Homo sapiens: one gene and its partners. The protein of the gene in region 3 interacts with the protein of the main gene of each other region in a biochemical or structural test. Each region holds a gene or a part of one and is shown on either strand. Other genes may lie near its edges.

Region 1 (3,500 bases), on a different chromosome or scaffold from region 3:
TGTCTGTGGTCAGTGACCTGGATAGATCTGAATGGGGCTTCTTTTTCGAGGAGTCTTATGGCAGGTCTCTCAGTAAAGACTCCATTCTTGATGATCACACATTTTGGATTTTCCAAATCTGTCAGAGAATGGGCTTGAGGCGGGGTTTGTGGGCACTAGTTTCACTGGTTTCATTTACCAAAAAGGGGAGCAGAAGTCAAGTATGGTGGCTCATCCCTGTAATCCCAGAGGCAAGAGAATTGCTTGAGCCCAGGAGTTCGAGACCAGCCTGAGCAACATAAGGAGACCCCGTCTCCACAAAAATGAAAAATAACATTTTAGTCAGACGTGGTGGCATGCATCTGTGGTCCCAGCTGCTTGGGAGGGTGAGATGGGAGGGTTGTTTGAGCCCTGGAGTTAAAGTTGCAATGAGCTGTGATTGCACCACTGCACTCTAGCCTGGGTGACAGAACGAGACCCTGTCTCAAAAAAAAAAAAAAAGAAAGAAAGAAAGGAAAAAAAAAACTCATGCCTGTAATCCCAGCACTTTGGGGACCGGGGTGGGCAGATCACGAGGTCAGGAGATCAAGACTATCCTGGCCAACATGGTGAAACCCCGTTTCTACTAAAAATACAAAAATTAGCCAGGTGTGGTGGCACGTGCCTGTAATCCCAGTTACTCGGGAGGCTGAGGCAGGAGAATCGCTTGAACCAGGGAGTCAGAGGTTGCAGTGAGCTGAGATCGTGCCACTGTACTCCAGCCTGGGCGACAGAGTGAGACTCTGTCTCAAACCAAAAAAAAGGGGTGGGGGGCGGGGGCAGGAGAACAGTGAGAGGTAGGGAGAGGAAAGGGGATTCTCGCTACACCCAAACCAGATACCATCTAGAGGCTAGAATCTTTGGGAGGCTCAAATTCCCTAGAAAGCAGGAGAAGCTTCTGTAGCCCTCCCGCTTTCCCAGTAGATTAAGCCCAGGGCGGCTCCAGATGTGTGACATGCTCTGTGCCCAACCAGAGCCCATCATAGGCAGAGGAATAACACCCACACCAGAAGGGCCCTCGGAGGTCACCACGTCCAAGAACCCTCTTTACAGATGAGGAAACTGAGGCCCAGAGAGGGGAGAGCCACCTAGCGAGCTGGTGGCGGCTAGACCAGGAGAGCTGTCATTCCAAGCAAGCAAAGGCAACGAGACGAGCCCAGAGCTGTGCTCCCATCTCTTTGTTAGGGGGCCTGGGATGCCCTCTCAGTGTCATTTTGTCCAGGATGATGCTCCCTCTCTTAAGCGATTAATGCGCCCTTGCTAACCTTTTGCTATCGCTGCCTCTTCAAACCAGAGGAGTTGAGAGTTCCGGGCCGGCAGAGGAAGGCGCCTGAAAGGCCCCTGGCCAATGAGATTAGCGCCCACGTCCAGCCTGGACCCTGCGGAGAGGCCTCTGGGGTCTCTGGGCCGTGCCTCGGGGAGAAAGAGCCAGAAGCTCCCGTCCCGCTGACCGCGAGCCTTCCTCAGCACCGTCCCGTTTGCCCAGCGCCTCCTCCAACAGGAGGCCCTCAGGAGCCCTCCCTGGAGTGGGGACAAAAAGGCGGGGACTGGGCCGAGAAGGGTCCGGCCTTTCCGAAGCCCGCCACCACTGCGTATCTCCACACAGAGCCTGAAAGTGGTAAGGTGGTCCAGGAAGGCTTCCTCCGAGAGCCAGGCCCCCCAGGTCTGAGCCACCAGCTCATGTCCGGCATGCCTGGGGCTCCCCTCCTGCCTGAGGGCCCCAGAGAGGCCACACGCCAACCTTCGGGGACAGGACCTGAGGACACAGAGGGCGGCCGCCACGCCCCTGAGCTGCTCAAGCACCAGCTTCTAGGAGACCTGCACCAGGAGGGGCCGCCGCTGAAGGGGGCAGGGGGCAAAGAGAGGCCGGGGAGCAAGGAGGAGGTGGATGAAGACCGCGACGTCGATGAGTCCTCCCCCCAAGACTCCCCTCCCTCCAAGGCCTCCCCAGCCCAAGATGGGCGGCCTCCCCAGACAGCCGCCAGAGAAGCCACCAGCATCCCAGGCTTCCCAGCGGAGGGTGCCATCCCCCTCCCTGTGGATTTCCTCTCCAAAGTTTCCACAGAGATCCCAGCCTCAGAGCCCGACGGGCCCAGTGTAGGGCGGGCCAAAGGGCAGGATGCCCCCCTGGAGTTCACGTTTCACGTGGAAATCACACCCAACGTGCAGAAGGAGCAGGCGCACTCGGAGGAGCATTTGGGAAGGGCTGCATTTCCAGGGGCCCCTGGAGAGGGGCCAGAGGCCCGGGGCCCCTCTTTGGGAGAGGACACAAAAGAGGCTGACCTTCCAGAGCCCTCTGAAAAGCAGCCTGCTGCTGCTCCGCGGGGGAAGCCCGTCAGCCGGGTCCCTCAACTCAAAGGTCTGTGTCTTGAGCTTCTTCGCTCCTTCCCTGGGGACCTCCCAGGCCTCCCAGGCTGCGGGCACTGCCACTGAGCTTCCAGGCCTCCCGACTCCTGCTGCTTCTGACGTTCCTAGGACGCCACTAAATCGACACCTGGGTGCAGCTGCTCCACTCCCTCGGCCTCCTCCCGTGCTCAGGCTGTGGCCGCACGCGCCCCTCACGCTTGCCCGCCACTCTGCATGTCACCAGCACCCCCGCTCCGTGCTACCCACCTTGTTTGACTCTCTGGCCACTTGATTTGTCCACAACGGCCCATCAGCCCACAGGAGGTTTGGTGGGTGCCTTCCACCGACAGGATGACGGGTGCCCTCATGGTGTCTAGAACTCTCCAACCCTCCCATGTAGGCATAAGCAGCCCCACTTTGCAGATGAGGAAACGGAGGCTCAGAGAAGTACAGTAACTTGCCGAAGGCCAATGAGTAGTAAGTGACAGAGCCAGGTTTGGGATCCAGGTAGGTTGTCTCTGAAAGACACGCCTGTCCTGCATCCCACAACGCCTCCCAGGAGGTGCTGGAGTGTGGACGCCTAACACAGAGATGTGCAGGGCACACACAGCAGGTGACACACACAGCATCCAGAGGTGGCCCAGAGCTCATGCTGTGCCTTTGGCCCAGTGCCCTGCCCCCACCCACTCTGCCTTGTGGCAGGAAGACAAGGAGCAGACACAAGATCTCCCTGGTCCACATGCCACCACCTCCCTCTGCAGAGGACAAGGGGATCCTCATGCTGGCATTGGAGGGGGTTGAGCAGGGCCCACCTTGAGCCCTCAGGAGCACGACCACAGCAGCCCTGCAGGGAGGGATTGGTGGGAGGAGAGTCCCAAGTATCAGGGAGAGGAGAGTTGGTGTCCCACAGGAGACCTCAGAGCCACAAGGCGAGCTTGTTCATAAATTTGGGACCCTTAGCATTTCACAGTTATTTGCAGAGCCCAGAAATGGATGTTACTGAAGCTCACAGTTGCAAGCATCTGTTAAATTTTTATTAGATTTTACTTTTAGGGAAAACTTTGAAATGCTATAAAGAAGCCTGTGTTTAAAAGTTAAGACAGAGGCTGGGGGCGATGGCTCACGCCTGTAATCTC
Region 2 (3,500 bases), on a different chromosome or scaffold from region 3:
TAAGAGGAGGGAAATATATTTACATTTGCCTACAACAAGCAGAAAAATTGCTGTAGAAATTGATATCACAACAGGAGACACATGGTATACTATAATTCACAACTTTGGGCAGCTTGGGAATGACGATGTTTACATACCAATTAGGGACTCAAGAAATCCTATAAAGTTTTTCTTCAGGATCCTAGTATTCAAATTAGCATAAGGATCAGACATGGAATATAATCTCTGAGGTGAATGTTTCAAACAATGTTTGAAGCCCCCTGGGATCACACAATTAGGAGTTGTGCCTATCTCAATTACTTTCATACTGTTTCTTTACATGATCCAATGCTAATCAACAATTTACCTGGTTAAAATTTAGTTGGTTTGGTTATGCTCTGAAGAGGACACTCCCTTCTTATGTTTTCTGCACTCAGGCAGGAGACTTGTAAAGGAGCTAACAACAAAGGGATTTTTAACCTTCAAAGCCTTAATTAGAAAATAAGAGCAAATGGTACATTTTTAAAGAGGAACCAGGAATACATATTCTTGTGGGCTTTTGCCTCATTACATTTGTTAATAAGGAATGCCAAAACATGTGCACCAAAAAGCGTTCAAGGTCTTTTGGTAGTAAATTATACTTGTAAATTTGATGTAAGTTGATCACTTGAAGAACTCACACTCTTTGAAGATTAGAATTCATAAATGTATGAAAGAATTAAATGGTTCTTTCCTCTAGTGATATAAAGTATTAAATGACAGAAAAAAATGTGTTCGAAATCAACTGCGGAAATAATTCATTTTGAAAAGTATTCAATAAAAATGTTAAATGGGAAAAATATGCTAAGCCCGTTTCTGCTGGATGAAGAAGTAAAGCAGAAACATGAAAAGGGCAAATTTAAGGATGATGGGCTGGGAAATGTCCCATCAGCCTCACAGTTTTACTTTTTGTTATTCAACTATGGCAGTTCTAGGCCCAGTAATCTATTCCATCCCCATAAGACAAAGAAAAAAAGACTAATTCTGATCAGCAGAAAACTGGATGGCCTCTAGGAACCTTCAAGAGGGCAGTAGCTCCGGATCAAGGAGAAATGAATGCCTTTAAAGAGGCATCTTAGATTGTTTTGTTAATACATAAAATCCTCTCTCTTTATCATGCAGAAGTCTCATTTCAAAAGGAAAATGCAAGTCAATGAGGATTAGTTTGGCTCCTCAGAGGTCAGAACTAAATATACAAAAACTAATAATATGACACTGAAATAAACAAGAATGTGGAATTGCTCATCCGAAGGGATGATGTAACTAATATTGACATAATTTCCAAGCAGAAAAGCAAAACTAGGTCAAAGCACGATGGCCTAACATAATAAGCATTTTTGTTTCCAGATTTTTACCATGTAGGCTGTGTCTGCAGGCATTAATGTCTTCTGTTATCAATGTTCGGGGCTGTCACAAACAATTCATGTCTTATCACTCTTTGTTAGTTAAACCAAAACAATGTAGTTTATATGTGAACCATTCAATTCTGACAGCTGAAATGTTAGAAAGCGGAGAAATATTCAGAAAGTGTCTCTTCCAGACTGAGAAGCATCAAGCAATAAATATTCATTATCTAATAGTCTATCATGTTTTTATCTACTCAGAAAGTCATACCCCTCTCAATTAATTATTATGACTGTTTTCCCTCTTTTAGTCAGAGCCGTACAAAAAGGGCAGCAACAATCTCATTAGGATTTCACTTTAAACATTGACCACTGAAAAGGAACTCAAGTGAATCACTCACCAAATAGCCAATTTTTCTCTACCGCTTTCCCCATCATATGTTGACTAAAAGAAGTCACGCTTTCTTCTCTCGTCTATTTGTTCCATTTTACCTTCCTGCACTATTTCCTCAAAGCACAGCTGATTAATTCATGGGCTAAATGACTCATCTCATTCCCTAAACTTTCTTTTATATAAATATAATCCTCCTAGTTTTTGCTGTCTGACATTTTCATACTTAACTAAAATCAGAGCAAAGAATATACACATAAAAGAAGCACAAAACCCAAATATAAGATCATTTAACTATTTGGATTTTTTGGACAGTATTTTCCACTAAAGATGATGTAGTCTTTCCTGAGTTGCCTCATTATAAACCAACATTCCATTCAAATTGCCTTGGAATTTATTAGCATATTGAATTATAGCACATGACCTGAAAACATCCAAATTATATCTTAGTAGAAGGCATGTGGTACAGTCACAAAAGAGAATGAGATGGGGAGTCTAGAAGACTTAGCTTCTAGGTGTAGAACCTAAGTCTCCCTCATACCTTGCTCCCAGATGGAGGGTAAAGTGTTTCTTGTGCTAAAACGTCAACCCAGAAATGCTAAACTTTAACCAGTATTCTTAGTCTGGATTCCTAATGTATTTCGTACAGAAGACTTGATCCTATGTAAGTAAATAAATCTCTATTAATAATATTTGGTGGTGCCGTCCATCTATATATTGCTTTATTTGGCCATTCATCTACTTATTATTAACTCAGCAGGGCATTCAATGAATTCCATTTTCCCAGTAACATCCCCCTTCCTCCGAATTGTTTGGGGAAGACCACTTCTAAATACACACAACCAAAGCAACACTCCAAAACTTGACATAGGACAGATACCACAGTCTACCGCATAGACCCTTTGGTAATATATTAGTCCTGTTGTTTCCATAAACTATTAAATGTCCCTGAAATTTCTATTTTGTCATTTTTAACTATAACTTCTGGTCTGTTACACCTACCAGCAATGAAAATGCTTTGTCCGGCACAAATCTTGAACTTCACTATGAAAAATGTGGCCACCATCTACATGGAGAAGGCTTCAGTCTTCTCTCAGACACGCTATCTCAGTTCTGGAGTAACCTTGGGCATGCCACTCACCTGCAAAATTAAACAACTGCACATGGACCTAAGGCCTAAACTATCAGGCTGGGTTCAATGAGAGAAAGCAGCAGATTCTATCTTGGCGATTAGGCTTTGAGCTATTGGAGGGCATGACCCATTTCGTAATCATTTCTGCAGAACAATCAAACAGAGGATAAGCCAAGCTGCTTACCATGTTTTGGGTTGTGTTCTTGCCCAGAACACAACTGAAAGGAATATATATATATATATATATATATATATATATATATAGAGAGAGAGAGAGAGAGAGAGAGAGAGAGAGAGAGACAGACAGACAGACAGACAGACAGAGAGAGACTATGTGTATATAAATGGACTATATATATATAAAACCATATACATATAGTTCAGTAATCATAACCTATGCTAATTTTCTCTACTACTGATCTATTTAGTCCTTGCTGTTTCCCGGACCTTTCTAATGCCCTTTCTTCTTCATATCCCTTCGGATTTTAAGGAGCATTTTCCATTCTCTTTTTTACTAAAATTCACCCAGCATGTGCCTGTAGAACACTTAATGATTCTTATTGTGTGCCAGACACTGGGCTTGGGTCTGGGGATTCAAAGGTAATTAATATGTGAC
Region 3 (3,500 bases):
TTATTAAGGGATTATGCTATGTCAGATTCCAACTTTTATTTTTAAGTTTTGTTTTTTTTTTAATGGATCTACATTGAAACACACCAACAGGAACTTATTATATATAGATCTTCGTATGAATTACTAGGTTTTTCACTTTTAAAACCATGTTTTGTGTTTTTTTGTTGTTTGTTTGTTTTTTGAGACGGAGTCTCACTCTGTCACCCAGGCTGGAGTGCAGTGGTGCGATCTTGGCTGACTGCAAGCTCTGCCTCCCGGGTTCACACCATTCTCCTGCCTCAGCCTCCCGAGTAGCTGGGATTACAGGCGTCTGCCACCACGCCCGGCTAATTTTTTTGTATTTTTTTAGTAGATATGGGGTTTCACCGTGGTAGCCAGGATGGTCTTGATCTCCTGACCTCGTGATCCGCCCGCCTCAGCCTCCCAAAGTGCTGGGATTACAGGCGTGAGCCACTGCGCCCGGCCAACCATGTTTTGTTTTGTTTTGTTTGAAATTTCAGTCAAGGTAAAAACCATGTTTTTATAAAAGCATAGTCTCTGTGGCTGAAGTTGCCTTGACTCTTTCAAGGGGAGTACAGTTAACAGACCATTATCATTAAGGTTCTGTTACATTAAGACAAGCCAAAATTGAATAGGAAGTGTAAAGTTTGGAAGACTCATGTTCTTGATCTTGATTGTCACTACATGGAGGTCGTGGAACATAAACCATGAATCGGTCTTGTTTTTCAGCTTGCAGTTTGACCCAGCACCTCGTAGAGGCGAGCCACATGTTACTCGTCGTACCCCAGACTACTTCCTGTAATGAAATTTTAAACTTGTACAGTATTGCCATGAACCATATATCGACCTAATGGAAATGGGAAGAGCAACAGTAACTCCAAAGTGTCAGAAAATAGTTAACATTCAAAAAACTTGTTTTCACATGGACCAAAAGATGTGCCATATAAAAATACAAAGCCTCTTGTCATCAACAGCCGTGACCACTTTAGAATGAACCAGTTCATTGCATGCTGAAGCGACATTGTTGGTCAAGAAACCAGTTTCTGGCATAGCGCTATTTGTAGTTACTTTTGCTTTCTCTGAGAGACTGCAGATAATAAGATGTAAACATTAACACCTCGTGAATACAATTTAACTTCCATTTAGCTATAGCTTTACTCAGCATGACTGTAGATAAGGATAGCAGCAAACAATCATTGGAGCTTAATGAACATTTTTAAAAATAATTACCAAGGCCTCCCTTCTACTTGTGAGTTTTGAAATTGTTCTTTTTATTTTCAGGGATACCGTTTAATTTAATTATATGATTTGTCTGCACTCAGTTTATTCCCTACTCAAATCTCAGCCCCATGTTGTTCTTTGTTATTGTCAGAACCTGGTGAGTTGTTTTGAACAGAACTGTTTTTTCCCCTTCCTGTAAGACGATGTGACTGCACAAGAGCACTGCAGTGTTTTTCATAATAAACTTGTGAACTAAGAACTGAGAAGGTCAAATTTTAATTGTATCAATGGGCAAGACTGGTGCTGTTTATTAAAAAAGTTAAATCAATTGAGTAAATTTTAGAATTTGTAGACTTGTAGGTAAAATAAAAATCAAGGGCACTACATAACCTCTCTGGTAACTCCTTGACATTCTTCAGATTAACTTCAGGATTTATTTGTATTTCACATATTACAATTTGTCACATTGTTGGTGTGCACTTTGTGGGTTCTTCCTGCATATTAACTTGTTTGTAAGAAAGGAAATCTGTGCTGCTTCAGTAAGACTTAATTGTAAAACCATATAACTTGAGATTTAAGTCTTTGGGTTTTGTTTTAATAAAACAGCATGTTTTCAGGTAGAGCTTAAACTAAATGATGTGTTTACTTAGTGCAGTTTCTGGTTATGAATATTATATTGCTATGTGTATATTATATGGACTCTTTAAAATGATTGACAGATTGGCAAATTCTTAAATCTTTGTACATTGTTGAGTCATATGTTCTTAGAGTTAAATTTGTCTCAGATAAGAAAGTGTTAAAGCATTAGCCTGTGTCAAGTTCTTTGAGTGATACTAGTGAAACCAAATAGAAAACTATTGTTGGATCATGATTTAGTCTTATGTACATTCACCCGAAGACAAAAATGGTACTTAAAGTGGCAGTGTTCAACATTTAATGAGTTTTTCCCCTTTTATCCTTCGAATAGGATTAGATGTTTAAAAAAAAGTTCTTCTGTGGGAACTAATATTTGATATTTTAACCTACCAGAGTAAACAGGAACACTTAATCATACTTGTGAGTGTAGTAAATAAAAGTTTTCTTGCTTTGTGCTGTGTTGAATCTGGAACCAACAGGGAAGTTATAGCATATCCCCTTTCTAAAATGCTTGAGGAACACATACATACCGAATGTCTTTTCTGATCTAATTGATAGTATTTTTAGTGGCTTGTGGAGTTAATTTTCCAAAGCAAAAGGCCATTAGGGTTTCTACATTTCATTTCATTTCATTCTTTTCTTTCACAAGAAATACATTCTCTGTGTGTCTTTTTGTTGCTCTGTCACTCTATGCCCTTTCTCTCCGACTGAACAAATAGCTTATCCATGTGCAGTGGTTTTAATACCCAAACAATCTAGACACCAAGCAGCTATTTTTTCCGGTCCTGTGATATCAGAATTGACCAAGGAATACGTATATTGTAATTGACACGTGGTGGTATCTTCCAGGTACAAATTCTCTAAATTTTGTGGTTAGCAGAATGGGACTTGTGATAAGAATAGCTTGGTTTTAGCATAACTAGGGTTTAAAATAATTGTTTAATTATAGAGACTGACCGGGCTTTGGCCATCTAAACTGGAAAGTGTTAGTACCCTACCTTCTTTTGAAAATGGCTATGGTAAGGAAAATGTGTTAGTAAATTATGTATTTTCTTGAAAAATACATAATTATGGTTGGATGGGAATCACTAAGTTGGGTGTTAACTGATGTCTCAATTAGTAACATTAGGATTTTCATTAATAAACCTAAAAAGCTTTCCCTAAGAACAGGCCTGGCACAGTGGCTCATGCCTGTAATCCCAGCACTTTGGGAGACCAGGGTGGGTGGATCCCTTGAGGTCAGGAGTTGAAGAGCAGCCTGGCCAACATGGCAAAACCCCATCTCTACAAAAAATATGAAAATCAGCCGGGCTTGGTGGCATACCATAGTCCCAGCTACTTGGGAGGCTGAGGTGAGAGGATCGCCTGAGCCCAGGAGATGGAGGTTGCAGTGGGCTGAGATTGTGCCACTGTACTCCAGTCTGGGTGACAGAGCCAGACCCTGTCTCAAAAATAAAGAGGATTCTGAGTTTGTATAGTGAGGGCTTGCAGAAATTTTGAAACTTATTTTGTAAGTTTACAATGAATTTGTACATGATGTGCTCATGTCTTGGGTTGAGTATCCTAGACATGATTTTTTCATTTGCTGCATATTAAACATTTGTTGGTTGTAGTCGGTATTTCTTAAATAGAAGTTTGTCAAT
Region 4 (3,500 bases), on a different chromosome or scaffold from region 3:
GCTGTCCAATTTTTCTGGTCAACCAACTGATTTCTGAGCCCTTCTCAGTAAGATAGAAATTTTAGAATGGTATCTTTATTATATTGGACTTCTGATGCTTTTTTATCTGCAAATCTTTAGGTTTTTTTTGTAAACTGGAAATTAAATAGAAGTGTAGTGATTCTTCAACATATTGAGAATAAGGACAGGAGATATCACTGTTATGGGCCCAAACCTGGCCTAGGAATTGTTTGCTGTCAGGAATTGGAACTAAGTAGGTGTGGACTAGTAAGCCAATTACATACCTCTTAGCATTGGTCTGTTTTGTTCAAACATAGAGGAAAAAAAAGGGTGTTAGTCTTAAATGATATTACAGTTCCTTATGTGCAAATTTCATTTAATAATTTTAGAAAAATGTGACTGTTACCATGAAGAAAATTAAGGTATCTTAGGGATAATTAAAACACCAATCATAAGAAGTGTGCATATCTAAAGTATTGGGTTGGTTTTGAATTTTATTTTGTGAGTAAAGGAGGAGGAATGGGCCTTTATTTTCTTTGTGTGCCATTTTTGTGGGGTTTTTTTTTTTATTATTTCTACAGAAATTGCCAGCAAACATTTTCGTTTTGCGGAGATGCTTTACTATAAAGTATTAGAATCTGTTATTGAGCAGGAACAAAAAAGACTAGGAGACATGGATTTATCTGTGAGTAAAATAACCAATGTATTGATCAGCGCAATGAAACATAATTTCCTTCCTGCCCTATTCTGTGGGTTGTTTTTTTTACTTTATATATAGTCTCCTTTCATACACAAAAGTTTTTAATTTTGATGAAATCCAATATATTTTTTCACTAGTTGCCTGTGCTTTTGTTTTATGTATGTATGTATGTATGTATTTACCTATTTGAGATGGAGTCTTGCGCTGTCGCCAAGGCTGGAGTGTAGTGGCACGATCTCGGCTCAATGCAACCTCCGCCTCCTGGGTTCAAGCAATTCTCCTGCCTCAGTCTCCCAAATAGCTGGGATTATAGGCATGTGCCACCATGCCCAGCTCATTTTTGTATTTTTCGTAGAGATGGGGTTTTGCCATGTTGGCCAGGCTGGTCTTGAACTCCAGACGTCAGGTGGTCCGCATGCCTTGGCCTCCCAAAGTGCTAGGATTACAGGCGTGAGCCACCGCACCTGGCCTGTTGCCTGTGCCTTTGGTGCTTCAGTAGCTTTTAATTAAAAAATAATAATTATTGACAATGTTGGAAAATTATAAGCAAAAAGAACAAAATAAAAATCATCTATGATTAATGTCATCCTATGATAAACATATTCACTTTTGGTACATGGTCATCTAGCCAGTCACCTGCCTGCCTGCCTTTCTGTTTTTTTGGGTTTGTTGTTGAGACAGAGTCTCACTCTCTTGCCCAGGCTAGAGTGCAGTGGTGCAATCTCGGCTCACTGCAACCTCTGCCTCCCAGATTCAAGTGATTCTTGAACAGTGTTGCCTGGGCTGGTCTCAAACTCTGGACCTCAGGTGATCTGCCTGCTTCGGCCTTCCAAAGTGCTGGAATTACAGGTATGAGCCACCTGCCTGGCCCCTTTCAATATTTTTTTTTCCTTTTTTTTTTTTTTTTTTTTTTTTGAGCCAGAGTTTCGCTCTTGTTGCTCAGGCTGGAGTGCAGTGGTGCAACGTCGGCTTACTGCAACCTCTACCTCCTGGGTTCAATTGCTTCTCCTGCCTCAGCCTCTGAGTAGCTGGGACTACAGGTGTGTGCCACCACACCTGGCTAATTTTCTATTTTTAGTAGAGATGGGGTTTCACCATGTTGGTCAGGCTGGTCTCAAACTCCTGACGTCAGGTGATCTGCCCACCTTGGCCTCCCAAAGTGCTGGGATTACAGGCGTGAGCCACTGCGCCCGGTCCCCCTTTCAGTTTTTTATAGCACTTACTGTAAATACTGTTTTGAAACATCTTTCCCTGTCATTGTTCTTCTAAGCATCAGTGTGTGTGTGTATTTTGGTTAGAGATGTAATCTCTTTTAAGATACATTTTATAATAGGTAAGGTTTTAAAATTCTCATACATTCCTTTTATATATTTCCTCTACTAAAAAATGGGCTTTATTTATATAATTAAGAAAGGTTTTGTAAGAAAATAAGGACACACTTTGCACTCACTCAGAAAATGAGACTTTCTTTGGTATTTTCACTTAAGTTCACTGGGTATGAAATGACTTTTTAGACTAAGTAAATGTTTCTAATGCTAATAACTTTATTTTATAGGGTATTCTGGAACAAGATGCGTTCCACAGATCTCTCTTGGCCTGCTGCCTTGAGGTCGTCACTTTTTCTTATAAGCCTCCTGGGAATTTTCCATTTATTACTGAAATATTTGATGTGCCTCTTTATCATTTTTATAAGGTATTTTTAAAAATATGATACTAATGGGGATATTGTAGATGAGACCAACTTCCTGTTGTTAGTCATTTAGTTCAAGTTAACATCTAAGAACATTTATTCTGTTTTTATTTACATAGTTAATCTCTATTTGTGGAGTAGAAAAGAAATAGAATCTTAAGACCTATGTAAATTCTTTTAATATTGTATGAAAGATCTATTTTGGGTAAAAGCTTTGATTCCTCTCTATCTAATAAAAGTTTTTAGAATACTGTGATTTTTATGAGCTGAGAAGGCTTAAAAAAAGTAGCACACATGTCACTAGCTAATCTTGTATAGCAGCCTTTTTTTATTTTATGAAAATTAAATACCATTGAAAATGTCAGAAAAAAAATAAAAAGTTCTCTTTCATGTGTTACAGAGAGGCATAGAGTTAAAGCATTGATTTGGTAGCTAGTTCTTTTTTTTTTTTGAGATGGAGTCTTGCTCTGTCGCCCAGGCTGGAGTGCAGTGGCGCCATCTCAGCTCACAGCAAGCTCCACCTCCTGGGTTCACGCCATTCTCCTGCCTCAGCCTGCCGAGTAGCTGGGACTACAGGCGGCCGCCACCACACCCGGCTAATTTTTTGTATTTTTAGTAGAGACGGGGTTTCACCGTGTTAGCCAGGATGGTCTCGATCTCCTGACCTCGTGATCTGCCCGCCACGGCCCCCCAGAGTGCTGGGATTACAGGCTGGTAGCTATTTCTTGATACTGACTTAGCATATGAGTTTATCTTAACTCTCATAAGATAGTCAAAACTAATTTTTATAGTGGCATAGATTAAATGTTTAGAGATTTTTATATGAAATTTTAAGAGTAATGTTTTTCAACCTCAATGTACAAAACATGTATTTTCATTAAAAAATTTTGAAATACATCACAATGTAAACCATTTTATATAATTCATAGTTTGAACTATAATTATTTACAAAGACAGTAAAAGGAAGAGCGGCTGTTTCAAAATAATACTTCAACTTGTAATTTTGACTAATTTCTTGTCTAAATATTTAAAAATATTTAATAATTATTCAGTGAACCAAGACATTTTTTATTTCAGGTGATAGAAGTATTCATTAGAGCAGAAGATGGC

What was found. Proteins that work in one complex are often made in the same cells at the same time.
Region 1: of the proteins of PPP2CA (region 3) and MAPT, one has a biochemical effect on the other in vitro, tested with the Homo sapiens proteins (2 studies listed by BioGRID).
Region 2: of the proteins of PPP2CA (region 3) and MID1, one has a biochemical effect on the other in vitro, tested with the Homo sapiens proteins (2 studies listed by BioGRID).
Region 4: the proteins of PPP2CA (region 3) and RBL2 form a complex in vitro, tested with the Homo sapiens proteins (2 studies listed by BioGRID and IntAct, with this or other methods).

Annotation. Positions count from the first base shown.
Region 1 is NC_000017.11:45,981,554-45,985,053, forward strand, and holds part of MAPT (microtubule-associated protein tau), read left to right. Parts: intron 1-1,312; coding exon 1,313-2,377; intron 2,378-3,500. UniProt on the Homo sapiens protein: Promotes microtubule assembly and stability, and might be involved in the establishment and maintenance of neuronal polarity.
Region 2 is NC_000023.11:10,610,586-10,614,085, forward strand, and holds part of MID1 (E3 ubiquitin-protein ligase Midline-1), read right to left. Parts: intron 1-3,500. UniProt on the Homo sapiens protein: Has E3 ubiquitin ligase activity towards IGBP1, promoting its monoubiquitination, which results in deprotection of the catalytic subunit of protein phosphatase PP2A, and its subsequent degradation by polyubiquitination.
Region 3 is NC_000005.10:134,195,074-134,198,573, reverse strand, and holds part of PPP2CA (serine/threonine-protein phosphatase 2A catalytic subunit alpha isoform), read left to right. Parts: intron 1-729; coding exon 730-802; 3' UTR 803-3,500. UniProt on the Homo sapiens protein: Catalytic subunit of protein phosphatase 2A (PP2A), a serine/threonine phosphatase involved in the regulation of a wide variety of enzymes, signal transduction pathways, and cellular events.
Region 4 is NC_000016.10:53,461,971-53,465,470, forward strand, and holds part of RBL2 (retinoblastoma-like protein 2), read left to right. Parts: intron 1-581; coding exon 582-685; intron 686-2,255; coding exon 2,256-2,393; intron 2,394-3,467; coding exon 3,468-3,500. UniProt on the Homo sapiens protein: Key regulator of entry into cell division. Directly involved in heterochromatin formation by maintaining overall chromatin structure and, in particular, that of constitutive heterochromatin by stabilizing histone methylation.